4 separate regions of the Homo sapiens genome follow, and all the other regions are reported to be linked to region 2. The links are microRNA targets in miRTarBase. Many come from high-throughput screens and were not tested one by one. Region 2 holds a microRNA gene; each other region holds the end of a gene's coding sequence.

The links. The annotated mature microRNA hsa-miR-26b-5p reads UUCAAGUAAUUCAGGAUAGGU and lies in region 2 at 5,022-5,042, shown strand. An mRNA with a match to its seed (bases 2 to 7 or 8) in the 3' UTR can be bound and repressed. Matches are read on the target gene's strand: a 7mer-m8 pairs with bases 2 to 8, a 7mer-A1 pairs with bases 2 to 7 and ends in A, and an 8mer does both.
Region 1: the mRNA of WASHC4 is a reported target of hsa-miR-26b-5p. The part of its 3' UTR that is shown has no 7-base or 8-base seed match.
Region 3: miRTarBase lists CBLL1 as a target of hsa-miR-26b-5p. Seed matches in the 3' UTR shown: 7mer-A1 at 2,610-2,616 and 7mer-A1 at 3,716-3,722.
Region 4: miRTarBase lists USP6 as a target of hsa-miR-26b-5p. Seed matches in the 3' UTR shown: 7mer-A1 at 782-788 and 8mer at 1,928-1,935.

What each region holds. Positions count from the first base shown.
Region 1 is chr12:105,166,172-105,173,291 of GRCh38, forward strand. WASHC4 (WASH complex subunit 4) reads left to right here. Exons shown (of 33, transcript NM_015275.3): 33 at 693-2,959. The coding sequence ends at 760. Among named protein-coding and RNA genes, the nearest start is that of WASHC4, 62 kb to the left of the region's middle.
Region 2 is chr2:218,397,636-218,404,758 of GRCh38, forward strand. It overlaps MIR26B (microRNA 26b), which reads left to right and starts at 5,011; the gene lies at 5,011-5,087. CTDSP1 (CTD small phosphatase 1) reads left to right here and starts at 2,233. Exons shown (of 7, transcript NM_021198.3): 1 at 2,233-2,522; 2 at 3,929-4,077; 3 at 4,476-4,580; 4 at 4,714-4,770; 5 at 5,400-5,492; 6 at 5,597-5,782; 7 at 6,662-7,123. The coding sequence starts at 2,456. The coding sequence ends at 6,790. RefSeq lists silencers at 881-1,150, 1,841-2,210, 2,281-2,360, 2,521-2,680.
Region 3 is chr7:107,757,714-107,764,836 of GRCh38, forward strand. CBLL1 (Cbl proto-oncogene like 1) reads left to right here. Exons shown (of 6, transcript NM_024814.4): 6 at 430-3,954. The coding sequence ends at 1,465. Among named protein-coding and RNA genes, the nearest start is that of CBLL1-AS1, 17 kb to the left of the region's middle.
Region 4 is chr17:5,172,340-5,179,457 of GRCh38, forward strand. It overlaps USP6 (ubiquitin specific peptidase 6), which reads left to right. Exons shown (of 38, transcript NM_001304284.2): 38 at 466-2,652. The coding sequence ends at 639. It also overlaps a transcript of ZNF594 not described here. Among named protein-coding and RNA genes, the nearest start is that of ZNF594, 16 kb to the right of the region's middle.

The DNA.
Region 1 (7,120 bases), not on the chromosome of region 2:
TATGTTATCACTCACATCACTGTTCTAAGACTATTTCAGCTAAAGATTGCTCAGAGATATAGTCAGTTTCTGAATACATTACTCAAATAGTCTTTGTCTGTTAATGAAATATGCACACATGACATTTTGCACAAAAAGCCAGGAATTCATTCTGTCAAAAACAGTGAAAAGCTGTTTCATTTAAAATTATTTTAAGAAATAATATATATTACGTATAATTTATTATAATAAGTTATAAATACAAATGGAAAGTTATTCATTCTGGACAGTTTTGATATGTGAGTTTGCAGCCATGTTCCTACCAGGAATGACAATGTACTGTAATGGTTCTTTCTTGGCCCAGCTGGAGGAACTGGCGTGAGGGGAGCGGGCCTTTCTTAGACCAGGAATATCAAGATTCCTCAGGACAAAGGAGCCCATGTGGTTTGAAGCCCCACCCCAATACAGGTTCTGAGCTCCCTCAACTCCACCTTCATTAAAAACCAGTGGAAACAATTGCAGTGTTTAGCCTAGATTTTTAAAAATTTTAAAGTGTAAACAAGGTATAATTTGTGATGTTAGAGAAACATTTGATGGATGCAACTGTAATTTGAAGTTTGGCAATACAGCTCTTCTCAAATTTCTTTTACTTCTTAATTTATTGTTTAAAAATGAACATAAATATCCATTATTATTTTCACTCATGCTTTCAGAAGAAACTAAAACAAGCAATGGAGACCTGTCTGACAGCACTGTGTCTGCTGATCCTGTTGTGAAATGATACGGATGGTATTCACTGCACATATGATGAAATCATCAGAATTGTTAAAACTTTTGCCAGTGGAATGGATAAACTATTGATGAATTGTTTCCTGGGTCACATCTCTGGAAAATAGATGTTACAGTTCTTAAAGGCAGTGCTTTAAAGTGAAGTTCATTCTGTTTCCAAAGGCTCTACTTTCAAAGGTTAAGAATGAGATTTTAAAATTGGATTTTTGCCTGGACTTGAGGGTACAAGATGTTTCTATTTGAAGTGAAGTTATAAAAGGGCAAATCCAGATTCATAAACTATCACCTCGGATTTCTTGTAATCTACATGTTTGTAATTTGTATTTGCATAGATCTTTGATCTATAGTTATTTCAAGTCATGGGAAATTCAATGCATATACTATATACAGCCAGTAAATACATGCTTAACAAAAGGAATGAGCCTGAAGTTCATAAAGAATACATATCAATATTCTTATAAAAGGAATATATGAAGATGGCTTTGATACTAGAGGTGAGGCACAAGTGTTTTATGTACTCTCAGTGTACAGTATAACTGATGATCCTTCTTTCATTGTTAATTTCATGTGACTCACAAGAGCTGCTGATGTCTTTGATGAGACATTTTATAACTAGTTTACATTGCTTTGAGAACATTTAACCTCCAACAGCTGCTTTAAATTTAAGATTTACTTAATACTCAGAAAATTCAGATAAAGCCATAGAGTCCTGTTTGAAGCTTCACTTCTATTTTGGTTGAAGGCATGATGTATGATGTCAGAAAAAAAATTGAATGAATTATTTCTACATCCAAACTCAGGTTTCTTCTACATTAGATTGAATTGAAATTTTGGTGATGGTTTGGGTAGACTTTTTTTTTATATCAAGTATAATTTAAAACATCAGATTAAATAATTACACTGTTCAGGCTTTTAAAAAAATACCACTGTGAGAATAAAGCGCTAGCAAGATACATCACTTACTGATTTTAAAAATACAGAAAGATTTTGAGTAAATTTTGTGCCCAGCAAGCTGTTAGTTTTATTTTTGTAAAGGTATGTAAGTTATTAAATGGTTAATCATGGCCTTTTAAAAATAAAATAAAGTGATACCTTTACAATGAAGACAAAAGTTTAAAACTTTCTAATACAAACACCATTTTGGGAAATGCTTGATTTTTTTCTATTGCATTTGTCTGCTAAACATTTCTTTGGATAAATCCTGCAAATACTTCTAACATTATTCTTTGATTCCAGCTTTTAGAATGGGTGTACAATGCCCTGTTTGTACTTACTGGTTAGGGTCAGGGTAACTTGCCAGCCCAAGATAAATACTTTAATTGTTAAAAGTCAGAAGAGACAGAATATGTAGGAAATGTTTTTTGTTTATTATGTAAACATGGCTTACAGAATTATGAACAGTGGATAGATTAAAGGCATTTAATATTTGTAATTCATAATAACTGTAGAAATGGCCCTAAAGCATGCTGCATAATTAATAATTTATATTTTCATTATTATAAGTGTTTATATTAATGATCTTGCATTTGATTATATCAAATTCGTCATTTCATAGCAACAGTATTGTTTTCTCTGTTTTTCTTCTCTAACTTCTCTGAAATCATCTCCTATTAAGGGATAGAAATTGTTACTAGAAGAGAATCACATGTTCTGTGTTCATTATCCCTACACATGTAAATTAATTATTTTATCAATACTAGATAGAGTTCACATGCTGACTCCCTGGATACCTACAGTTGAGAAGAAAATGACAGACAATTATTTTTCCTTTAGGTCAAAATAATGTCACTGCTATCTGGATAAATTATAAGTTCATATATTTGAAATAAGATCCTGGAAACGAATTTAAATGGTGTCAAACTGCAGAGCAACAGGGCTTCAGTATATTCACATCTAATAGGTTAATATGTACATTTGGATGATGATTTTTCTTGATAACATTAACATTAATTTTATTTTTTCAGACATACTGTAATTTAAAAATTAATGTGAGCGTTTGTTTTAAGTTCACAGAAAACTTAATAATTCAAATTCTCAGGAATTAAGGACTCACCATAACATTGTCAGTTCTAATGAAATTTTGTAAAAGATGGCAAGTTTGTTACCTCACTTGAGTGGGGTTTTCCTTTTCCCCCAATTCTAAGAGAATATAATGTGTATACTAAAACATTAATAAACATAATTTTGAAAATTTCCTTCCCCTGGATGTTTATGTTCAAAATTGAATGTCGTAAACCAGTAGTTCTTAATATTAACCTTTTTGGGGTCCCCCTTAATTGAATGAAATGAAATCTGTGGAATCATTTTTTTATAAAATGCATGCACATAGGTAAAAATTTGAAGTTTAAAATTGGCTCCTGTCAATGTATTCCAGGTGAAAGAAAGGTGTTTTCTTTCCTTTATACATCCTTGATCTTTCCAGAGCTTTTTTCCAATAAAAAGAACCAATATGAAGTTACTTTAAATCCTAATCCTGGAAAGGGATTATCAGTATGCATTGTTTAATGTTAGTAATAACTATAGTGCTATTTGCAAACCTGAGTTGAACTAAAACAATACAGTAGTCTCCCCTTATCCGTGTTTTACTTTCCAGTTTCAGTTACCTGTGGTCAGCTGTGGTCTGAAAATATTACATGGAAAATTCCAGAAACAATAAGTTTCAACTTGTGTGTTATTCTGGGTAGCATGATGAAATCTTGTGCTGTCATGCTGCATCCCGCCTGGGACGTAAGTCACCCCTTTGCCCAGCATCTTCATGCTGTATGTGCTACCTGCCCATGAATCACTTGGTAGCTAGGTTGTCAAATCAATAGTGTTTGTCTTCAAGTAAGCCTTATTTTACTTAATAATGGCCCCAAAGTGCAAGAGTAGTGACGCTGGCAATTCAGATATGCTATAAGAGAAGCCTTAAAATGCATCCTTTAAGTGAAAACATGAAAGTTCTCAATAAGGAAAGAAAAGAAATCATATGTGGGGTTGCTAAGATCTGTGGTAAGAATGAATCTTCTCTCCGCAGCATTGGTGACAGTATTTGTTACAGTTATGTTTCATCATTAGTTATTGTTAATCTCTTACTGTGCCTAACTTATAAACTTTATCATAGGCATGTATATATAGGAAAAAACCGTATATATACGGTTAGATACTATCTGCAGTTTCAGGCATGCACTGGGCGTTTTGGTGTATCCCTCTCAGATAAGCAGGGACTACAGTAATGACAACAGAGCCTTCAAAATATTACACTGGAGACGAGGTACAATCCTGTTAAATACTACACTGCAGAAATCATTCTTGGTAAAGTTAAGTCTGGTTGCTGTTCCTTTTTTCTTCTGAGGCAGTAAATTTGTAAAATTGTGGGAAAGATGAGAAAATATTGGATACTTCATGTTATTATTTTATGCTGAGTCTGCTAAATGTAAAAGGTAGGCTTTAATTGATTTTAATAATTGTAACAGGATTTTCTTTCCAGCTTCACATTGCAGATGTTTCAGAAGACGGTATTCGTTTTTTAAGGGAAGTTTTAATACCACATTTTTTTTTTAACAAAGGCTTTCAGATGTTAGGAATACTTTAATAGGCTGTCAAAGATGTGAAGTTTAAAAAGGGAATCCAGAATAAGTGGAAATCTGTAGAGACTAAGCAAAGGCAGTGAACTCAAGAGATGGTGATGGCAAAGTTAGAGTTCAGTTTATAACACAGGTCAGCATATATATAATGTATAAGAAAAGTTGGGCAAGTAAGTATTTTCTTTTCAGTAGTTTGGCTCCTCTTTACCACTCAGTTCACCTGATACCTCCATTTCCCATTAGTGGAGATATACTCAGGAATGTACATCAAATTTATTCAGTCGATGCAGATCTGATACCATAATTCTTGGATCATCTCTAAGGACTATAAATACATTCTGTAGGTAAGAGTCAAGCATTCTTTAATAATGCCCTCATTTGATGGGGGAAGGAGTTAACTTTTATACCTAGAAGCACTTGTCTTTATCAGATTAGTATTAAAGTATTTACTCTTTTCAGAATCTGTACAAAAGGTAGCAAAGTATTAAGGATATTATGCTTTAGGTTGATACTGCTATTGAATAAATCGTCAAAGCTTAATGTATTGAGAAATATTTGGAGATTGCTTAGTATCTGGTTCTCTCTTGAGGTCATCTGTATATAGCACAGAGTGGTTAGAAGCATAGACTCTGGAGCCAGAACAATTTGAATCCCGATTTCCTGCTTAGGAACAGATTCCTTAATATCTCTGTGCTTCATTTCCTTGTGCAAAAGGTGGGATGATAATGACAGTATGTAGCTCATAGGTTGTTTGAGGATTTAATTTGCGTAAAGCACTTTATATATTAGGAAACAGTAACTAAATATTAGCTGCTCTTGTATATAACTACTGGAAACATTAGCTATTACTGTATTATGTGTACTCTCATAGGTAGGAATAAACTTGGCACATAAGCATTAAGTGTTAACTATTCTTTTAGGTGGAACGATTGAAACTAAAGTCTGTATTTGACTTTAAGTGGGTCTCTAAAAAACTATTCCTTGTTAAGTGGCTCAGGTAGATGCAGACAAGGTAAGGAAGGCCCTGTTCTTCCCTAAAGGTAGTCTGATGGGTATGTGAGGCTAAACCAGCCTGGGAAGTGGGAATTGGTAAGAATAGTTGGCTTCTAAAAAGGTCCCATTTCCTCTCTTCCCACCCTTCCCACCTTTCATTTACATGGCACTTGTTATCTTTCAGAGCACTTTAATGTGTATTAATACACAGTTCAGTAAGTGGAGAAAAGGGGCAAATCACCCACAGTTCTAAGTTTTAAAATTATTTAAAAATAGTGCATGCAAGGTATACAATATGTATTATACTATTTAAAGAATGAAAATAAAGCACTTGGAAAGAAGCTACCGTTATCAGTTAAGAACACTTTAGAAGCTCCTGCAGTTTCTGCCCAAGAAAACCACATGGGGGTTTGGTGTTAATCATTCTCTTGCTGTTCCCTTGTTTTACAACTGATGGTATTTTCCTAAATATTGATAATATGGTTATGTTTCAGTTTTCAAACTAAATAGAAATGGGATCTTATTATATGTTTTTGTAACTTTTTCATTATTTTAAAAATTCATCCACGTTGATGCATATAGCTGTAGTTTAGCATTTCATTACATGAATACAGCTATCTTCTGTCGACGACATCTGGGTGTTTTTCACTTTTGGGATATTGTAAACAATGATGCTGTAATCATTATTGAACGTGTCCCTGGGTCCATGTGTTTAGAGTTTCTCTAGGCTGTGTACCTGCAGGTAAAACTGCTAGGTAGTACGGCAGGTGCCCTTTCAATGTACTGGACAGAATGCCAAACTGTTGTTTCATCCCAGCAGCTGAGGAGATTCCCCTTTGCTCCATTTCTACAAACAGCTGAATTTTTGCAGTCTGGTGAATATAATGTTTCTGTGGTTTTAATTTGCATTTTCCTGATTACTATAAGGAGTCTGTTTCTGTTTATGAACACTTTGTCTTTTTTAATGTATGAAATGCCTTCATGACTTTTTTTTTCAATTTATCTTTCTACCTGTAGGAGTATTTTATATATTCTGGATGCTAATTTTTTGTTGGTCTTGTGTGCTTGCTAGTATCTTTGGTTTAGTTGTGTGTTTTCATTCTCTGTGGTGGTTTTTGATGAAGTTAGTTTTAATGGACTGAATTTCAGTCTTTTTATGTTTCCCTAATGATGTGCATGCTTTGTGTCTTATTTAAGCCATGCAGTCTTTTAAAATGGTGGATTAATAAAATAACTTTTGTAATACAAAATTAGGTTAACATCATAGGATCCATTTGAAATGTATAAAGAAATGTATAGTGTTTCACTTTTCAAACTAATAATTGTTTAGGACTTCAGATTCTACCCCTCTCCCAAAAAAGTCTAAGCAAGAAAAAAAAAGTTCAGGGGACTGTGGTTCTTGCAGTCTGTCAGAGAACCAATTGATCTAAAGCAGTTATGTCATACAAATTTGTAAGGCATTAGTGAACAATGAATTAATTTTACAGTGCATAATCTCATACTGGCTTAGACTGGCTCACTATTTCTTTTATGGTGTATACATTTCAAATGGATCCTATATTAACCTAATTTTGGATTACAAAAGTTGTTTTATCCACCATTTTAAAAGCAACACCTTTAAAACTTTTAGCAATGGGATCACATATTCTACTCATGTTGACTGGAAGTATTTTTTGATACTATATCCCCTCTTCTGTGATTTCATTATGCCCTAGTTTTTGGGAAATTGAATGTTAAAGCTATAGAGCTGACTTTAGTTTTCTTCCAGGGATGTTCTAGAAAATAACCACATC
Region 2 (7,123 bases):
TCCTGGGGTGCGAATGATAAAACAGACAAAAAATAGAGTGCATAAAGCGACCTCCACCTGTAGAGACAGAGGGCAGCTGGGTGTAGACAACCCCTACAGTGAGGACACTCGAAGGACCCCCCTCCCCCCACGCAATCCTGGCCTCTCGCTCACTCCGTAACTAACTACCCGCCCCAGGCGTGGGGAGATAAGTCCAGGGCTCCAGGCAGAAGGCGCGGCTACCTCTGCCGCTTTGGGAGCCTGGGAGGAGGAGTTAGGTCTCCCTGGGAAAAGAACTGCACGGGCAACGGCTTGAAGTGGCGATAAGATGGGGTGGAGGAGGTGGGGGATTCCTGAGGAATCCTGTGAGCTCAGGATGGCGCGTCTGGGAATGGTGGGTGTGGGGACAGCCGGCCAGGTACCAGCCCCCTTCACAGAGGGAGAGGAAAGCGCGCCACCCAACCCAGGCCAAGGGCGAGGCCACGACTCCACTCAGTCCCTCGCCACACGCTTCCTTTTGGGGTCATGAGGGCCCCGCATCCGGAGATAAAGCCGAGGCCCCACCCAGGGGGCCGGACCGCAGGGGAGACAGATGTCCCGCTCCCAGGCTGGAATCCCGCCTTTGCCCTTGCCGGTAGACCCGAAGCACGTCGCTTCCTTTCTTGAAACTCAGTTTCCTCATCTGTGAAATGGGTTAAGAAGGAGGCCGTTCTAAGGGGTAAATGAGATTAGGGGGCGCAGCCAGAGCAGGCCTAGGAAAACGCCAGCAGCGTGTGGCGATCACGGTGATGAAGCGCAATGGTGGCCGCCCCGTGGGCTACCCAGGAGCAGGAGGAGGGCCGAGGGATCCAGCCCGGGGACCGGGGTATCAGTCCCCGACAGTCCCCTCCCGCCCCTACTCCCAGCCTCAGCGCACGAAGCCGCCGCGCCTTCTGGCAGACGCCGCTCCCCTCCCTTCCCCTCCCGGCCCCCGCGCGGGGCCTCCCCTCCCCGGCTCCCCCTCGGCAGGGCCTGGCGGACGTGCGCCGCGTCGCACCCGGCGGCCGGACGGGACAGGACGCGCCCGCCCCGCCCCGCCACGGAGGCCCGCGGGAGAGGGGGAGGGGAGGAAGTGCCGAGGGGTGTTTGTCGGGCTTGGCATTATTAATTTTTAAATGGTGAACTTACAAAATAGTAACGACGAGTGAAAAGAACTTCATAAACGAGGAAAAAGACCAACCCGCAGACCCACGGCGCGCACCACGGAGGGGCTTGCAGCGAGAAGACAGGGACCTCCGTTCCCAAGTGCCCAGCACTGCGCCACAGGCCGGGTGGAACGGGCCTTGAGGGCCTCTGGTTTGAGGTCCCCCACGGTCGGGCTTTGGGCCCACCGCGTGCGGCGCCGTGCTGGGCTCCTAGGATCGGCAGCGAGTCCAGTGACTCCCACCGCACCCCCAGTAATCACAGGGCGGCCGTCGACCGCGGGCAGGGGAGGGGGTCTGGGAAGGCCCCTGGAGAAGGTGGCATTTCCTCGAGGTCGGTGGAATTTGGCTACGCGAAAGGAACAGCGCGTACGAAAACTTCAGGCGGGAACGCGCGGTGGCCCGTGCGCGGCGGGTAGACGTGCGGGGCCCCGGGTGGGGCCGTGGGGAGAGGTCGGCAGGGGGCTTTCCCAGGGCAGAGAGTTAGAATTTCACGTCCTACAGACCGGGGGCACCTCGCCCTGGGGCTGCGGGGGGCGGCGACCGTCCCATTCAAGAGCGTGATTCTGAGGTTTGCACAGCTGTTTCGGGCCAGCAGAGCCTTCGCTGGCTCTTGACGTCCTTGCGAGGTGATCTCTGCGACCACCAGACAGGAGAGAAGACCCATTTTACAGATGAGGTAGTGCTATCTCCAAGTCCTCAACGAGGAAACCGAGAAGCCTCTAGTCCCGGGTCTTCAGAAAACGCAGAGGTGGAGCCGCGCCGCACTCGGGCACTCCCCGGCGTGGGCGCTCCCGGCGGGCGGGCCTTGGCCGAGGGCGCTCGGCGGCCTGGAACGGTGAGCCGGGTGCCGGGCCTGCCACGCAGCCGCAGAGACTCAGCCCCGCCGGCGGGCGGCAGGAAGGGAGGCGACGCCCCCTGGAGCGCGGCAGGAACCCGGCCCGGCCCGCCTCCCAGTCCGCCTAGCCGCGCCGGTCCCAGAAGTGGCGAAAGCCGCAGCCGAGTCCAGGTCACGCCGAAGCCGTTGCCCTTTTAAGGGGGAGCCTTGAAACGGCGCCTGGGTTCCATGTTTGCATCCGCCTCGCGGGAAGGAAACTCCATGTTGTAACAAAGTTTCCTCCGCGCCCCCTCCCTCCCCCTCCCCCCTAGAACCTGGCTCCCCTCCCCTCCGGAGCTCGCGGGGATCCCTCCCTCCCACCCCTCCCCTCCCCCCCGCGCCCCGATTCCGGCCCCAGCCGGGGGGGAGGCCGGGCGCCCGGGCCAGAGTCCGGCCGGAGCGGAGCGCGCCCGGCCCCATGGACAGCTCGGCCGTCATTACTCAGATCAGCAAGGAGGAGGCTCGGGGCCCGCTGCGGGGCAAAGGTACCGGGGCTGCGGGGAGGGGGCCGAAGCCGGGGCGCCGTGGGAGGAGAGAAGGGGCCGGGATCTTCCCCAGGGGAGCCGCCGCCGCCGCCCCGGGCGGCCGCCTTAGCTGTGCCCGAAGCTCCCAGCCCGAGAGGGAGCAGGGAGAGAGTTTGAACTCAGAGGAGGCTCAGAGACGCGGGGCGGGGCCTGGCGCCTTTGGGGCGCTCCTGTTCGCTCGAGGTGAGGAAACTGAGGCAGGAATAGAGAGGGAACTCTTCGGGGGTTTCCTGGCAGGCATTGCGTGGTGCATGGGCGCCCCCCCACCATTGGCGCCAATGGGGCTGGGAGATGGGGGAGCTGAGGAGGGCGCCTATGGGCCACCCGCTGAGACTCCGCCCCACCCCCCACCCCCACCCCCCCGGGCTGCGGTCCGGTAGGGTCTTGGGAGGGGGCGCCGAGGTGACAGCAGGCTGGGGAGGCTTGGAGGGATCTCCCGCCAACACACAGCTACGTTCCCCACAAACTTCGCGTCACGCGTGGAGGCGCCGACCCCCTCGGAGGCACAGAGAGGACGGCCGGCACTTCCAAGAGTCGCTTGGCGCCCGCGGGGAGAGTCGTGCGCCTAGTGGGCACGCACCACCCCGCAAAGCCTCGCCGCCCCGACGAGGCTGCGTCCCCCAGCGTGGCTGGGCCGGGGTGGGGGGGTCTGTCTTCTCCTTTTCCCCGTGTGGACCTCAGGATCTGGACGCTGCCCCCAGGTCTGCCCACCCTCGCCTGGGTCTGGCTGCCCCGGAACTGAGGGCAAGGTGGAAAGGCTAGTTGCAGGGGGCCGGAGGGGGGTGGGGTGGGAGGGGTATCTGTCAATCAGGCTGCTGGGCTCCAGGTCGGAGGTCTGGGCGGGGCAGGGCAAACAGATGGCCACTGGACACTGGCCCCAGGCCGCGGGACTGCACCCCTGCCTCTGGGCCCAGCCGCAGTGAGGACTTCGTACCCACGGGGGTGGAGAGGATGGAGGGAGGGCAGGGGTGGACTGCCCTGGGTCCCAGGCCCTGGCTGTCCTGAGCAGGGGTGCTCAGGTAAGGTGGGGTCAGGAGGCACCGCAATGGGGCTGATCAGCAGCAGTCATGGAGGCTGTGAGAGGCAGGGAGAGAGCACCCCAGGACCTCCTTCTCCAGGCCACGCACTCCCTATGTGGGCGCCTTAATACCTGCTAGACCTATTTGTCTGGGAGCTGCAGGAGCCTTGCAGTTGATTGTGGAGCCCTGACAGGGGCGTTTCAGAGAAAGTCAGGAGCTGCCTTCGTGTGTCTGGATGAAGGGGCCACGGCAAGATCCTCCTGGCTCAGGGGTTCACACCTGGGCACACATGCAGGATTCTGCAGGCCAGTGTGCACCGAGCCTCCAACTTGTGCCTCCCTACTTCAGGTGACCAGAAGTCAGCAGCTTCCCAGAAGCCCCGAAGCCGGGGCATCCTCCACTCACTCTTCTGCTGTGTCTGCCGGGATGATGGGGAGGCCCTGCCTGCTCACAGCGGGGCGCCCCTGCTTGTGGAGGAGAATGGCGCCATCCCTAAGGTGCGTGGGGGCCAGGTGGGGCCACGGGGGCACCTGGACTCAGTCTTCAGGGCTTTAGGGGAAGGGGCTCCTGACTGAGCTTTTCAGGATGGACTTGCAGACCTGAAAGGTGCAGAGTAGGAGGGTGGCAGCCTCCCCTGCCAGGCCCTGCCCACTGTGGGGAAACTGAATTCTCCCTCATAAGTGGAAGCTTTTTCCTACCTTGGTTTTTAGAGAGGTCTCAAAGAGCCAAGAGGCCTACCCAAGCCCTAGAGCTGGCAGGGGCAAAGCTGGGAAGGGGGAAGTATCTGTTCCTGGGGCCTGGGGTTCCTCTGGAGACGGCTAGGGGGAGAAGCCTGCGTGGGAGGAAGGACCAGGCCCGGAGAGAGGCACCCCAGCCAGCCCCGCCCTCCCTACAGCAGACCCCAGTCCAATACCTGCTCCCTGAGGCCAAGGCCCAGGACTCAGACAAGATCTGCGTGGTCATCGACCTGGACGAGACCCTGGTGCACAGCTCCTTCAAGGTGGGCCCTGCTCAACAGCCCTCAGCCCGGGTCTCGGGGGGCATCCCCCACCCTGGCCTGGGAGGGAGGTGTGTGCTGGACCCCATGCCCTGGGGCTCCTCCTCCAACTCCAGCAGCTCTTTTCCCCCCACAGCCAGTGAACAACGCGGACTTCATCATCCCTGTGGAGATTGATGGGGTGGTCCACCAGGTGAGGGCCAGGAAGAGGCAGTGGTGGGCTTGGCATCTGCCTCCAGACCCTAGGCTCTTCCCACCAATCCGGAGCGCCTCGGATGGGAATTGGATACATGTGGAATGTCAGAGGCCCAGAGAGGGTGTGAGACTTGTCCCAAAGTCACACAGAACCTCAAGGGCTTGTGCTGACTCCAAGCCTGCAGAGTGGGCTCCTCCTCTAGGCTCCCCCGTGCTGTGCTCCCTCGCCCCACCCTGCCCGGGACCCAGTTCAAGTAATTCAGGATAGGTTGTGTGCTGTCCAGCCTGTTCTCCATTACTTGGCTCGGGGACCGGTGCCCTGCAGCCTTGGGGTGAGGGGGCTGCCCCTGGATTCCTGCACTAGGCTGAGGTTGAGGCAGGGGAAGGGATTGGGAATTAGGGACCTCGTGAGGTAGGACTGGCCAGTGGAGTGGAAGTTTTGATCGTTTTCTGGCGGGGGGTGGGTACAGTTTCCCCAGCAGTGGTCAGGGTAGCTGGCCAAGCGGAGCCTGCGGGCCCAGTCTCCTTCCTGTGCGCCTCTGCCTCCCTGGCCCATGCCCTGCCAGCCCTCGGCCACCCCCACACTGCCCCACTGGCCCGCAGCCCCCTCACTGGCCCGCCCCCCAGGTCTACGTGTTGAAGCGTCCTCACGTGGATGAGTTCCTGCAGCGAATGGGCGAGCTCTTTGAATGTGTGCTGTTCACTGCTAGCCTCGCCAAGGTGAGCCCCACAGGGGTCCCGGGGCAACCCTGCCCTCCTACCTACCTCCCGCATGCAGCCCAATGAACCTGCGGGCCCCAGGATGACCCACCTCCTGCTCCCAGTACGCAGACCCAGTAGCTGACCTGCTGGACAAATGGGGGGCCTTCCGGGCCCGGCTGTTTCGAGAGTCCTGCGTCTTCCACCGGGGGAACTACGTGAAGGACCTGAGCCGGTTGGGTCGAGACCTGCGGCGGGTGCTCATCCTGGACAATTCACCTGCCTCCTATGTCTTCCATCCAGACAATGCTGTGAGTGCGGGCTGGACTGGGACTGGGACAGGAGCTGAGACCCAGGAAGGGGTCAGTCCATTCAGGCCACCTTGGCCTCTTGGATCCCCAGTTGGGGGGTGGGTGCCCTCCCAGTCCTTCCTGCATTCATTGCCTGTGCCTGCCGCCCACTCCCCTCATCCACCTGCCCTGTAGCCATATGGTCTTTTCCCCTCGCACAAAGCAGAGCATCTGCCATGCACAGGGGCCCCCACAGGGCAACGGAGTTTGGAAAGTTTCAATTTTTCGAATTGCCAGTTGTGACCTACTGATGGCCCACAGAATTAATTTAGTGGGTTCTGATTGGGAATTTTAACAAAATGAAATAGAATAGAAAATATCCGGTCGGGTGCAGTGGCTCATGCCTGTAATCCCAGCACTTTGGGAAGCTGAGGTGGGCAGGTAGCTGAGCCCAGTAGTTCAAGACCAGCCTCGGCAACATAGTGAAACCTTATGTCTACAAAAAATACAAAAACTAGCCAGGCGTGGTGGCGCATGCCTGGAGTCCCGGCTATGCAGAAGGCTGAGGTAGGAGTATCACTTGAGCCCTGGAGGCAGAGGCTGTGGTGAGCCAAGATTGTGCCACTGCACTCTAGCCTGGGCAACAGAGCAAGACCCTGCCTCAAAAAAAAAAAAAAGTATCCGAGTGCTTCGCACAGATAAGGTTAGGAATTGTGAAGCTTTTGCATTGTTACGTTATAAATGTGTTTTCCTGGGGATTGCTGTCAAAAAAGTTTGAACACTGTGGGTGAGGGGTTTTCAGAAACTGCATGATCTGAGTAGTGGCTACATAGGGCTGGCCTGGAAATTCTGCACCCAGGACCACCTGCCCCCCTCATCTTCCTACACCCACTTCCCCAGGTACCGGTGGCCTCGTGGTTTGACAACATGAGTGACACAGAGCTCCACGACCTCCTCCCCTTCTTCGAGCAACTCAGCCGTGTGGACGACGTGTACTCAGTGCTCAGGCAGCCACGGCCAGGGAGCTAGTGAGGGTGATGGGGCCAGGACCTGCCCCTGACCAATGATACCCACACCTCCTCCCAGGAAGACTGCCCAGGCCTTTGTTAGGAAAACCCATGGGCCGCCGCCACACTCAGTGCCATGGGGAAGCGGGCGTCTCCCCCACCAGCCCCACCAGGCGGTGTAGGGGCAGCAGGCTGCACTGAGGACCGTGAGCTCCAGGCCCCGTGTCAGTGCCTTCAAACCTCCTCCCCTATTCTCAGGGGACCTGGGGGGCCCTGCCTGCTGCTCCCTTTTTCTGTCTCTGTCCATGCTGCCATGTTTCTCTGCTGCCAAATTGGGCCCCTTGGCCCCTTCCGG
Region 3 (7,123 bases), not on the chromosome of region 2:
CCACTTAGTATTATTTGCTCAACAAACAGTTATCACTCAATAATACCATACTAGTTTGAATTCCATGATTGTAAGTAATCTACCCGTTGGTTTTTTTCTTGCTGGGTTTTTTGGCAAATGGATGCAGAAGGTACAATTGTTTGAGAAAACTGGATAAATTCTAGGCCTTGGGAAGAATGAGGTCTCTTCTTGAAACATACCGTTTGATATTAGGAGTTCTGAAGTTGACAGAAATGCCTATCTTAATGGCTAACAGACAACAAAGTAGGGAAGATTAAAGGTTTGCGTAGAATAACTGTAACTTCTAATTGTGGACTTTTGCTATGTTTTATGTAACAGTCAAATTTTAAAAACAAGCATATTTTTGAAAATTACATAATTTTTTGTATTCTCTTTTAGTAAATCACATTTCTTTCCCTTCTAATTTAGCTGTAGTGATCCTGTGCAGCGAATTGAGCAGTGTACACGAGGTTCTCTCTTCATGTGTAGCATTGTTCAAGGGTGCAAGAGAACATATTTGTCTCAGAGAGACTTACAGGCTCATATCAACCATCGCCATATGAGAGCTGGAAAACCTGTTACCCGTGCTTCACTTGAAAATGTTCATCCTCCTATTGCCCCACCACCAACTGAAATCCCTGAGCGTTTTATAATGCCACCAGACAAGCACCATATGAGCCATATTCCGCCAAAGCAGCACATCATGATGCCACCACCTCCTTTGCAACATGTGCCACATGAGCACTATAATCAGCCACATGAGGATATTCGTGCTCCTCCAGCAGAATTGTCCATGGCTCCACCTCCACCTCGATCGGTCAGTCAGGAAACCTTTCGTATTTCAACAAGAAAACACAGCAATTTAATAACCGTCCCTATTCAGGATGACTCAAATTCAGGTGCTAGAGAACCACCACCTCCTGCCCCAGCACCTGCTCACCATCATCCTGAATATCAGGGTCAACCAGTGGTATCGCACCCTCATCATATTATGCCTCCACAGCAACATTATGCACCACCCCCACCTCCTCCACCACCAATAAGCCATCCAATGCCACATCCTCCCCAGGCTGCAGGTACTCCTCACTTGGTATATAGCCAAGCTCCACCTCCACCAATGACCTCTGCTCCACCACCAATAACCCCTCCCCCTGGACATATTATTGCCCAGATGCCACCTTATATGAATCATCCTCCTCCAGGACCTCCCCCACCTCAACATGGTGGTCCACCTGTAACTGCACCCCCTCCTCACCATTATAATCCTAACTCATTACCCCAGTTCACTGAAGATCAAGGAACTCTGAGCCCTCCATTTACACAACCAGGGGGAATGAGTCCTGGTATATGGCCTGCACCAAGAGGGCCACCACCACCTCCACGATTGCAGGGTCCGCCTTCTCAAACCCCACTTCCTGGACCACATCATCCAGATCAGACAAGATATAGACCGTATTACCAATGATAATAGTATTTTGAATGGAAGATATGAGGGGGAAAAAAACTTATGTGTAGTCAATCTTTTAAGCTTTGACTGTTTTGGGAAGGAAGAGTACCTCTTATCGAGGTAGTATAAAACACATAGGGTCTTGTTTCTTAAAATGGTTTTAAATCTTGACCTTAAGATTGATTTCAAGTACCATACTGTAGTACAGATAAGTGGCTCAGTTGAGCACAGCTATATTTTAACATCTCTTTGTTCCCCTAGTTTAGTAAATTGACCCAGAGGTGACCATTTGTAAAAAATTTGAAAAAATTTTTCATTGTTTTACTTCAAAAGTATTGTTTTGTTAAACCCAACGTTTAGTTTTTCTTGTGATACATTTTGTTAACCTGTGTAAAAGGATTAAATTTCAATATGGTTGTAAAAATGCTATTTTTATGTGAATTTAAGTGCAGCCACATACTGTTTTTTAAACCATATGTTTTACCACTAATTTCCCAAAGTTATAATAAAATCCTGAAAGTAAAAATCTACTAGAATTTGCTGTAAGGCAGACTGTTAAATGATAGAGAATTATTTCACATTTTAGGCACTGAAATGTTGAGGTTTCGAGGTATAGTAAGTATACAATGCACTTCACTTGGATGCCTTTTCATTTTTAGGCAGCCTCAGGAGCACCAAAATACATTGGAATTCTAGTACTAAGATATATTTGTTCGTAATGTTAAAAGACATTACTAATTATTTGGAAAGAGATGGCCAAAATAATCAACTCTACAGGCTTCAAGCTGGTGGGGGAATGCTGTTACTCATTAATGCTTTTTTACTGAATGGTCGGAATCACATATGCACCACACATACTGATCTTAAGTAACATTATTTTATAGAACTGTTTAAATGGGTTTAAATGGTGTTCTTTAGATGAAATGTGTTCTGTTTTGTTCATTGTCTTAAACTGAATAGGGCTGAATAGGCTTTATGTAATTCTTCATTTCATGGTAGAGTTTGATGCTGTGTTTAAGTGGGTTCTTGTTTATAGGATTTTCAACTACAGTTTGAATGCCATGGAGGAATTTGAATAATATATTAATGAAGGACATATTCTTGTAATCACAAATTTGCATTTGCTCAGGTTTCATTGCTGTGTGATAGGATTTTTCCTCTAACTTGAAATTTAAAAACTTTTATTTCCTATTCCTTTTGTCGGTAAAGCAGTCTGAATTTGGAACATTTTATCATGGAGTCAACAGTGAAGACTACCAGATAATTTTGTATTGGAGAAGAGGAAATAACAGCTAAATTGTGGATTTCAGTGCTTTACATGGTGCCTTTCGAGTCAGCTTTTACATTATAGGGGCTTGTTATAGTTTAGCTAAGATGACCACTTAACAGTTTATACAGAACTCATATGTATAAATCAACATTCTTAGGATATTATTTATATCCTTTGAATAAATCCCTGTGAAGTTTTTCCTCCCCACTAAAATGGTGCATAATAAAACATGAAATATGTAGTATGCAGATATCATTTATTAGATAGTTTGTAGTGTATACATTTAGAACATACTTCTTTTGACAAAGGGTGATCTGATTGCTAATTTACCATTTTATTCTGTCAGGTACAGGTGAAACAAATTCTCATCTTGAATGATCAGATGCAAAATCATTTCTGAACCCTAGAGCAGAAGTTAGAAATAACAAAATGGCCGTTTCAACCTTGACTGGCCAAAAATAACTAATAAACTTTTTTGTTTTAAGTCAGGCAAGTGATTTTCTACATTTAGCAGTTTGAAAGTCCAGTGTTAATGCAATATTTCTAGTGAGAAATGCTTGTTATTAAAAGCATGGGAGTGATAGTGTGAAATGGTGGTGAGTGCTTCTATCATATTACTGTAGGTACTTGGACTGGTGCAAACTTGATTCCTTTTCATCCCCCTGTTTAGGAGCTATTAAAATATTACTGTTAAAAATCCAAACCATTCTTTGTTCCATGTAATAAGAAAATAGCCAAAATCACTTTAGAGCTTCTCAACTATTTATGAAGAGCTATCCTGCTTTTATTGAAAGTCACTAGAGTTGAATGTGGTAAGAAACCACTTAGCCTATGTATTGGACGAGAAAATCAGTATCATGATAAAATTTTGAATTAAGAGAACCCTTGTAGAGTTTTTAAAAAATGATTTATTTTCAATTAGGTTTAAGAAATCTATGTTATGCAGGGAGGCATATCAGATGAATGTTGTAGCAGACAAAAGTTTTAAATCGTGTTAGACTTGAATTCATCAATTGTTTGAATGAGGGTGGGTGGGTAGAAGGATAACAAAATTACTGTTAGTGTTTCTTTCCTTACGGAAAAAGATGTGAATCCCAGCCTTATTTCAGGGAAGCCTTTGAAGCTATGATGGACATAAGTCTAAATTAAATGTATGTATGTTTCATTATATTGCTCTTAAGACTACTGAGGTGGCAGTTTAATTCTTAAAAACAATAAAATGGAAGCATAAATACTATTTTGCCTAGATGAATTTTTATGTTTTGGCACATCTGGGAGAATGCAGAATTTTCCATGTTTATATTGATACAACTTTCTACAGTAAAAGTAAGTTCACTTCTAAAAGATTAAAACCATCAAGTTGAATGTCATATTTCTTCATTGGCATGTTTATTCAGAGTATAATACAGTATTTGGGGAAATATCTGTTGCAAAGACTGTAAGAAACTATATTCATTTTGCCTTGTAAAAACTACTTGCTCAAAATTATCATGTAAATACTAATTAGATACCACTGAAATGTAAATGGAAGAGATACTTGAACATATCTTTTAAAGTCAATAAGAGGCTGTATGAAGTATACCGAACTGCCGAAGGCTTTGTTCTGACTAATATATTGGAAGAGTATCTTTTGTAATCTTTTTGGGAAAACTCTACAGTTCCGTCTTTCATTTTTTGAAAATGCCCCATATTATGAGTACATGAAAAAAGTGCATGAGTACTCAAAGATATTTCTTCATTAGATTAGCCGTCAAATTAGTATGTTGATGTTAAGCATATATAAACATACTATATTCTGACTGAAGTGGACTTACTCTTCATACTAATATAAACATACTATATTCTGATTGAAGTGGACTTACTACTCTTCACTGGTTTGTAATTTGCTAAATTATGGCCTAGAAACCAATCAGTTTGCTTAATACAGTATATGTGTAATCAAAGCAGTATCAGATACACTAGGCTTAACGAGAAGTGGAGATAAGCCAGGTAAAATACTTGGCAGTGATGCTAATAAAACCTAATTTGGATTTTTAAACACCTTGTTTTGATTCATGTCCCTTCAGTTTTCCATCATTGAGGGAAAAAGTTTTAAGGCAGAATTCTTAACACTTTAGTGCTTAATTTTCCCACATCCCCATCTTTAAAAATTTTGTATTTTTTGGCACTGTAGAAGCACAGGATTGAAACGAACAATAATAAGTCATGGGTTTAGTTCTCCAAATTGGGTAGGACTTCTTTAAAAAAAATTTATTCACTTAAAAATGTTAAAACTTTTTTTTTTTGGTAAAAGGATTATTCTGACTGTGTGATAAGACAAAGGAGGCTAAGATGGAAGCAGAGGGACCAGTTAGTAGGGTGTTTTAATAATTTACACAAGAGATGATGGTGGTAACATTACAGGTATCAAGAAGTGGGAAGTGGGTGACTTGTGGAAGGATATACATAAAGATACATATATATGAATTATTGATTTATAAAGTTAAATACCTATTATATATGTTAGATGTGGGTGTATGATAATGAACAAAATAGATGGTCTCTGCCCTTTAGGAGCTTACATTCTGACTTACTTAGGAATTGTTCTTGATAGTCGTCTTTAAATTTTCTTCAAAAATTTTCCTTATATTCAAAGTATTGTGGCCAGGACATAAATCTTAATGTTTAAAAATACATTACCAAAATACATACAAAACCATGAGAGAAAATGTATTTAATTCTGAACATTACTATTTCCTAGCAGCTTTTCTGGATATAATTGTACAATGCTAAATTAGTGAGTTTGGAACAAATCTGTGGAATGCACTTATAATTATTCCTGAGTTTAGTCCTATCTTGTAATCAGTTTTTATTTAGGTTTTAATTTCTTTTGAGAAGTGATGTTTTCTAATATTTAAAAGCCTGGGTTGTATAGAGTTAGACTGTCCAGACAGATTTCTGGCTTTACCACCTGTGACTATCTAATTTAGACTAGTTACTTGCTCTTTGAGTCTTCATTTACTTTGTTTTTTTAAAAAATAGGGGAAATCTTAGTACTGACATTATTGGGGACTCTTTTGACAGTTAAATGACTATATTTTAAAAAGAGAGTCAGTAGGATTTCCTGGTGGATTTTTTGGCTTGATCAGCTTAAGAAAAATGGAGTTGTCATTAACTGAGGTAGAAAAAATGCTGGTAGAGCAGATTAGGGGAAGATCAGCAGATCAGCCTTGACATGTTGAAATCCAGAGGAAGATGCTAGAAACATGAATTAAATATCCCTCTTTTATATTCTTGTTCATGCAGTGTAGGGTCAGCCATTTAAAAAATTTCATTTACATTTCTAAGTGGTAAGTTCCTGTGTTTAGACAAAAATATGTATCAAGTGCTTAAATAACTTACAAAATAATTTTAAAGATACACTGCTCAACATGTATTACTTTCACACTTTATGAATTTCTGTAATGTATTTGTCTCTTCACAAGTTGTTCTGTCTCCCAGTTGCCTCCTCTCCCCTCCAATCTTGTTCTGGTTTATATACGTTTATTTTTATCTTCCAACATGGTCTCTTGACTTCTTCCTAAATTAGGGATCAGATTTTGGTACTAGGAAATTTCCAATATGTGCTCTGAGGCAGGCAAGTAGAGGCTCAGCCCCATGTATTCCCATTACTAGAAGCATACCCAACCTTAGTGGCCTACAAGAAAGAAAACATTTAAGGATAAGGATAAGTAAACCTCTAAGGTGTTAAGGTTGAATGTACTGTGATGTGGGCACAAGAATTGGAGTGCTTGTGCTTGTTTCTTGAGTTTTTTGTTTTTGTTTGGTTTGGTTTGGTTTGGTTGGCAAGAAGAGTGCAGAGGGCACCTTTGCTTGGGAAGATGGAGACCTCAGCGACAATCCTATATATAAGGCATTTGCCTCAACTTCAAGCCAAATGATTGAGTAAATAGGCTCCTGTTTTCAATTTCGACTTCCTACTCTTTTTAGAGGAGAAGTTCTTAACCCAAGATTTGTGAGGCATTTTATATGTAAATTGTGTGTGTGTGTGTGTGTGTGTGTGTGTGTGTGTGTGTGTGTGTGTGTATTTTTTCCCCCAAAGTCCATAGGGTGTATGAGACTCTATAAGGAGTCCATGACTCAGAAAGTTAAACACTACTATAAAGAGTGCTGTGGCCGGGCACAATGGCTCACACCTGTAATCCCAGCACTTTGGGAGTCCGAGGCAGGAGGATTGCTTGAGGTCAGGAGTTTGAGACAGCATGGGCAACATAGATCGTGTCTCTACAAAAAAATGGGAAGATTAAAGAGTGCTGATATTCTACTTTTAAGATTGGCTGTGTAAATAACCTTTATCTTACCTTTGTGTATGTAGTTTTAAGTCCAATAGACAAACCCTCTCAAAGACACTACCAGAGAGTGGAAAG
Region 4 (7,118 bases), not on the chromosome of region 2:
GCTAATATGGTGAAACCCCATCTCTACTAAAACTACAAAAAATTAGCCAGATGTGGTGGCACATGCCTGTAGTCCCAGCTGCTCGGGAGGCTGAGGCAGGAGAATCGCTTGAACCCGGGAGGCAGAGGTTGCAGTGAGCTGAGATTGCACCAGTGCACACCAGCCTGGTGACAGAGCGAGACTCCATCTCAAAAAAATAAATACATACAAAATAAATAATTAGAATTTGATGGGGTTTTAGGTCATTCTGTTTTGACTTGTCTATGGTCAAAATATTTTCCCCAAAGCAAACATTGGAAATAATGGGGCTCATTTTAAAGGGGCAGGTGTGAGACAGCCAAACTAGTGAGCTTATTGGAAGCAATCAGGTTAGTAATTACAGAGGGTTGGTCTTCCCTTTCCTGGCAAGGATTTAGAGTCATAATAGTGATGGCTTTTTGTTAAAGGTTTTTCTTGCCCTTTCAGGAACTTCACCCTGATGAAATTGACACCGACTCTGCCTACATTCTTTTCTATGAGCAGCAGGGGATAGACTACGCACAATTTCTGCCAAAGATTGATGGCAAAAAGATGGCAGACACAAGCAGTACGGATGAAGACTCTGAGTCTGATTACGAAAAGTACTCTATGTTACAGTAAAGCTACCACTCTGGCTGCTAGACAGCTTGGTGGCGAGGGAGATGACTCCTTGTAGCTGATACTTGGCAAAAGTGTCACTGAAAGACAAGCTAAATGTAGTTATTTTATCCTGTTAGAACAAAAATTCTAATTAAAATAGTTAACTTGAAGAGTAGAAACAATTGTATTTTGAAGTCTCATACAAGCTGTCTGATAGAGAACTTTCAGGCAGATCCCACCATTAGCCTGTAAACAAAAGGTGTGGCACCAGCCACCTGGGACCAAATAAGAATTGAATTGTGCTTGTCCAGATATGAACAAATATGTAGTGAGTATAGAGTTTACCAATAATCATAACAAATATTAAAGATTTCCTTGGAGTCAGAGGAAAAAACAAACAATTATAATGTTGTCTAGGGACGACATGATACGCTACCTCCTTTTTCCTGAAGTTTTATTCCATTATATTGACAAGATGGAGAAAGCAAGATCATGAAGGTGTGCAAATGATTCTTACGGCATGGACAAGGATTTTTCAATTTATTTTTTAAACTGTTTCCATACCCTTTCTTTTTCTTGCTTTTTGTTTTTGCCATTGTGTTTACGTTTGAGACACAACCAGTCATTGGTGGCAGGGGCATAGAGTGGTCAGTCTGAAAGGGAGGCTCTCTTAAGAGCTATGTGCCTTCCAACCAGAGGGAGACCCAGTAGAAAGAAAAACATCCTGGGAAATCCAGCTACCAGGGCCCTCCCAGTGGAGGCATCTTACATTTAGGCTACTTCAAGTATCCTCAGAAATGTATTCTGCACCCCCGGCCCCGCCCATGCTGAGGGAAGGGGAGCAGTTGCCAATATTTGCACCATCTTCACATGCACATGTTGCAACAAGAGCTTCTGGGAAGGTAAGCGGCATCGGAGCTAGATCACGTTTCACAATTAGTGGTTATTCTTTTCTGTGTTTGTTTTGCACTTTAAAAAAGAGAGAACACATGCAAATGAACTTGCTTGTGTGTATTTGATGGCTCTAAGGGCTATAAATTACAAACAAAACACATCCCAGACATTAGGAGTTCATAAGTATATTTAATGAAATTGGTGGTTTTAGGAAGTCAACTTTAGTTTTGCTTTGTTTGCATGTCCACTGGTTTTTTTATTTTGATATTTGTCTTTTTTTAAATTTTACAGTAGTCATTGAAAGTTATGTTTCTTTGCTTACTTCATTTTTTCCCTCTAATTATTTAAGATTGGAACAAAAGTATAAATATTATTTATTTGAGGTAGAATTTTTTTCATGTAGTTTCTTAATATATACTTGAAGGAAATGTTTCACCTTATTTTTGGTCTTTGTTTATTCATTTAGACCCTGCAAGTTGATTCTCATTGCCAGATTCCATTACCCTTTCTTCCTCATAGGTAGTAATTACCAATGTAACTAAGCATTTGTGTTCTGATATCTGAGGCCAGTAACTATTAATATCTAGTTCTCAGAGCATTTGGAAAGGTTATCTTAAATGGCTACCTAAATTGAAATCCTTTTCAGAAAAAATATAATTGCAAGTAGGTAGGAGTGGCCTAAATTGTCTAATGTAATAAAGTCAGACAAAATGCACACTTTATAGTTTCAAGATTTTCAGTAAATAAAATCTGTCCATTCCTACCTGGACATGTCCCATTAAAAAGTGGAAGATTTTAAATAATTTCTTTACAGATGTTTTATTTAAACAGGTAGCACAATCTACTAATGTTGTGTGATTTGTGTTATACTGGTTGTAATTAATTTTTTTAATTCATGAACTAGCGGAAAATTTATTAAATTAACTATTAACTACATTCACCTTGTAAATTACTGTATAAAACTTGTTGACAATGCACTGACTTTAGAAAGATGTTAATGTACATAAATAGAGTGTAAATAAAATAGTGTTGATGTACTGAAATATGAACTGTATCAAAAGTATTGGTAATTGTATATGGGGTGTACCTGTTTATCTGTTAACTATTATCCAAACAAATTAAATACTGTGGTTGCCTCTATGTGCTGTTTTTCCTCATACAAGTAAACACAGAAAGTCAAATTCTTCAGCCTCCCTCTCTGTGATCCTGTTTTAATTCTCCTACTTGAATAATTTCTTTCTGACTTGTATACAGAGGGGATGCTTCATCTCTGAGGTTGGAAACTCTGTAGAGCAGGATTCCCCAACTCCTGGGCTACAGACCAGTACTGTCCATGGCCTGTTAGGAACCGGGCTGCACAGCAGGAGGTGAGTGGCGAGCTGTATTTATAGCCGCTCCCCCTTGCTCCCATTACCGCCTGAGCTCTGCCTCCTGTTAGATCAGCAGCGGCACGCCATTCTCACAGGAGAAAGAACCCTATTGTGAACTGCGCATGCTAGCAATCTAGGTTGTGTGCTCCTTATGAGAATCTAATGCCTGATGATTTGAGGTGGAACAGTTTTATCCTGAAACCATTCCCCCCATCCCCCCAGTCCGTGGAAAAATTGTCTTCCACAACACCCATCCCTGGTGCCAAAAAGGTTGGCAACCACTGATGTAGAGGGTAGAACAAGATCTCTCCAGTGACCAGGTGACTTTAAACATGGCTCACATCCCTTTTAGAAAGTTATGGCAGGGAAGCAAGTAGAGAGCAGGTGGTAAACTGAGGATTGGTGCCTACATTGGTACCTACAGTGGGTCCTACAGTCATTTTTGTGCAGATCAGGAGATGAGGTGAAGAGAAGGAAAGCTTCTCATTTGCATAATGCCTTGAAATGACCCTAGGTTTCTAGCGGGCACCGAGAAACCAGAGATGCCCCTTGTTGTCTGTCTGGGAGATCCAAGGAGACATCTGGCAGTGTTGAGAAGAGATGAAGGTGACAGCTGTAGGTCCTTCACCCTCAGCTTCTATTTGTTCACCTATAAAGTTAAAATACGGAACACTCAGGCTTGTAAGAATTAAATGAAGGACACAAACCCTGGCACAGTTGCTTGGTAAGTGCTCAATCCAACGATATTCAATCCTATTTCACAAAGAGGGATTTTTTGTTTGTTTTGTTGTTTGTTTCTTTACCTCCTTGCTACACCGACGCTAAAAGAGTTTAATAGTACTCTGTTCACATTTTCCAAAAACAAGAATACACATTAAAAATGTATAAAATGGGCCAGGCCCAGTGGCTTACACCTGTAATCCCAGCACTTTGGAAGGCCAAGGCAGGCGGATCACCTAAGGTTGAGAGTTCCAGGCCAGCCTGACCAATATGGAGAAACCCCGTCTCTACTAAAAATACAAAATTAGCCAGGCATGGTGGTGCATGCCTGTAATCCCAGCTACTTGGGAGGCTGAAGCAGGAGAATTGCTTGAACCCGGGAGGCAGAGGTTGCAGTGAGCCGAGATCACGCCATTGCACTCCAGCCTGGGCAACAAGAGCAAAACTCTGTCTCAAAAAAAAAAAAAAAAAAAAAGAATAAAATGAAACATGTTGAATCAGCAGCAGTGGCAGCTTGTTTAAGGAACAAACAAACAGAAAATTAATACGGAAAGTCAAAAAATGAAGCACAACTCTTTTAAGTGCCAGTCTGTTTTTAGGTTTCTTCTTTTTTTTTTTTTAAATAGAGACAGGGTCTCTGTTGCACAAGGATGGAGACACACAAGCCTGGCATGGCTGTAGGTGATACAGGGTGGAGACACTGGGAGGTCAATGCGGCTGCAGACACAGGGTTTGGAAACACCTGATGGAAAATGTGGGCTGTCAGATAAATCCCTGCTTAGAGAGAAATTTACAGCCTTAAAGGAGTATGTTAGAATAGAAAAAAAGATTGACAGTCAATCACATAAACTCCCTTCTCAAGAATTAAAAACGATCAAAATGAAAGAATGAGAAAGTAATAAAGAGCAGACATCAATGAAATAGGAAAAAAAAAGCAACAGAAACAAATCAAGGATAAAAGTTGGTTTATAGGGTTGGGCGCAGAGGCTCACACCTGTAATCCCAGCACTTTGAGAGGCCGAGGCAGGCGGATCACGAGGTCAGGAGATCAAGACCATCCTGGCTAACACAGTGAAACCCCGTCTCTACTAAAAAATACAAAAAATTAGCCAGGCGGGGTGGCGGGTGCCTGTAGTCCCAGCTACTCGGCAGGCTGAGGCAGGAGAATGGCCTGAACCAGGGAGGCGGCGCTTGCAGTGAGCCGAGATCGCACCACTGCACTCCAGCATGGGCAACACAGTGAGTCTCTGTCTCATAAAAAAAAAAAAAAAAGTTGGTTTATAAATATTAATACACTTAAGAAACCACTAGTGAAACCAACTGAGGCAAAGAGGAAAGACACAGAAAACCAATATCCGGAACCAAAACAAAAGCCTGTTCCATAGAGCAGTGTATTAAGACACTAGGAGGGTTCGGTGAAATACTTAGGACTACAAGTTTGACAACAGAGATTCAAATAACATCACATTGAAAAATAAACTTACTAGGCCGGACATGGTGGCTCACGCCTGTAATCCCAGCACTTTGGGAGTTCGAGGCAGGTGGATCGCCTGAGGCCAGGAGTTCGAGACCAGCCTGGCCAACATGCTGAAAACCCGTCTCTACTAAAAAATACAGCCGGGCACTGTGGCTCACACCTGTAATACTAGCACTTTGGGAGGCTGAGGCAGGTGGATCACGAGGTCAGGAGTTCGAGACCAGCCTGGCCAACATAGTGAAACCCCGTGTCTACTAGAAACACAAAAATTAGCCGGGGTGGTGGCACGCACCTGTAACTCCAGCTACTCAGGAGGCTGAGGCTGGAGAATTGCTTGAATCCAGGAGGCGGAAGTTGCAGTGAGCCGAGATTGCGCCACTGCACTCTAGCCTGGGAGACAGAGTGAGACTCTGTCCCCCAAAAAATAAAAATAAAAATAAACTTACTAAAACGGACACAGAAATAACATAAAACAAGAAAACTCCTACATATACCGAAGGATTTGAATTATTAGAAGTCAAACCAGCCAACAAAAATACTGTTCCACAAGGAAAATTCCATACCTAAAGAAATATTCCAAATATTTAAGGAAGAAAACACCTAAATTTCTCAGACTCTTCCAAAGAGAAGAAATATAGGAAATATTTTTCAGTTTTTTTTTTTTGTGAAGCCAGCATTACTTTGACACCACAATCTGAACAGGACCTTAGAAAAAAAAATTATAGGCCCACTCTTTCATTAACAGAAATACAAATATTCTAAAAAAAACCATATCATATGAATTAAACCACATATGGAAATGTAACACATGGATACCAAGTGGGATATACTAAAAAATGCAGGATTGGTTAACATCCAAAAATAGTTCACATAAAATATCCTATTTTCAGAAAAATACGAGAAAAACATATGATTATTTACAGTATATGTAAAAAAAAGCATTTATTCAAATTCAACAATTAGTCATAAATAACTCTTAGCATATGTAAAAGAAGGCAGCTTCCTTAATCTCATTGTTTGTCTAAAATGAAATTATAATAAACTACATAAGGAATACAGGATCACTGAAACCTGTTCCCTGGAATCAGAACCAGACACACCGTGTTCAGGAGGTGTGATGGGGACAATAAAAGAAGAAAATAAAGAAAAATAAAGGTGTAAGAACCAACATTTAAGCAATATAGGTGTTATTATATGTGGCTGACACTAACTACATAAGTATGTAAGTACGTTAAGTATTTAAGTACATAAGTACATAACTACATGTACATAAGTACATGAAAAACCCACCACAATCCAAAAATGATGCCTATGAATATGTGAATTAAACCAGGTAACAAGATACAAAATCAATATATAAAATCAATTAGATTCTTATTTACCAGCAAGAAAGAAATGTGAAATAAAATTACGGTACAATGACCAGACTAAGAAACAACTATCTGCACTAGAAATGACCCCATAAAGGATTAATTTATAGAATACCTTTTTAAATTCTTCAAATCAACATAAGAACACAAATGACCCAACAGAAAAGCCAGCACTGAAAATGAAGACAAAGACGCAAAGGCCAATAAATATTCACAAAACGTCGCTTCACTAACTTATTTCCAGTTCCAGATGACAGGAGGCCCTCAAGGACCCAGAAGGCAGGACCACAGGGAGGTGACAGCGCCAGCAGCAGCAGGGCAGGCCTCTGCCTTGGCCACAGCTCCTGGCGGGCTGCAGGGGCCGGGAAGCCCGAGCAGCCTGGCGCTCCTGGCCCCTGCACACACTTCCCTCCCTCCACCCCGTTCCTCTCTCTCTCTGTGCCTTGGGCCCCCTGGGATGCGCTCACATCCAGACTCACCAGGCCGGAGACGTTGGCAGAATGGAGAAGTGCTGGCTACAGGTGGATGATGCCCACCTGGCTGCCAATGACTTCTGCACCAAGCGAGGCTGGGTCTCTGGAGCTGCACCAGGGGCTGGACAAGCTGACCCTGGCCGGAGCCAACCTGGAGATGCAGCCTGAGAACCTCAAGGAGGACCTGGTCTACCTG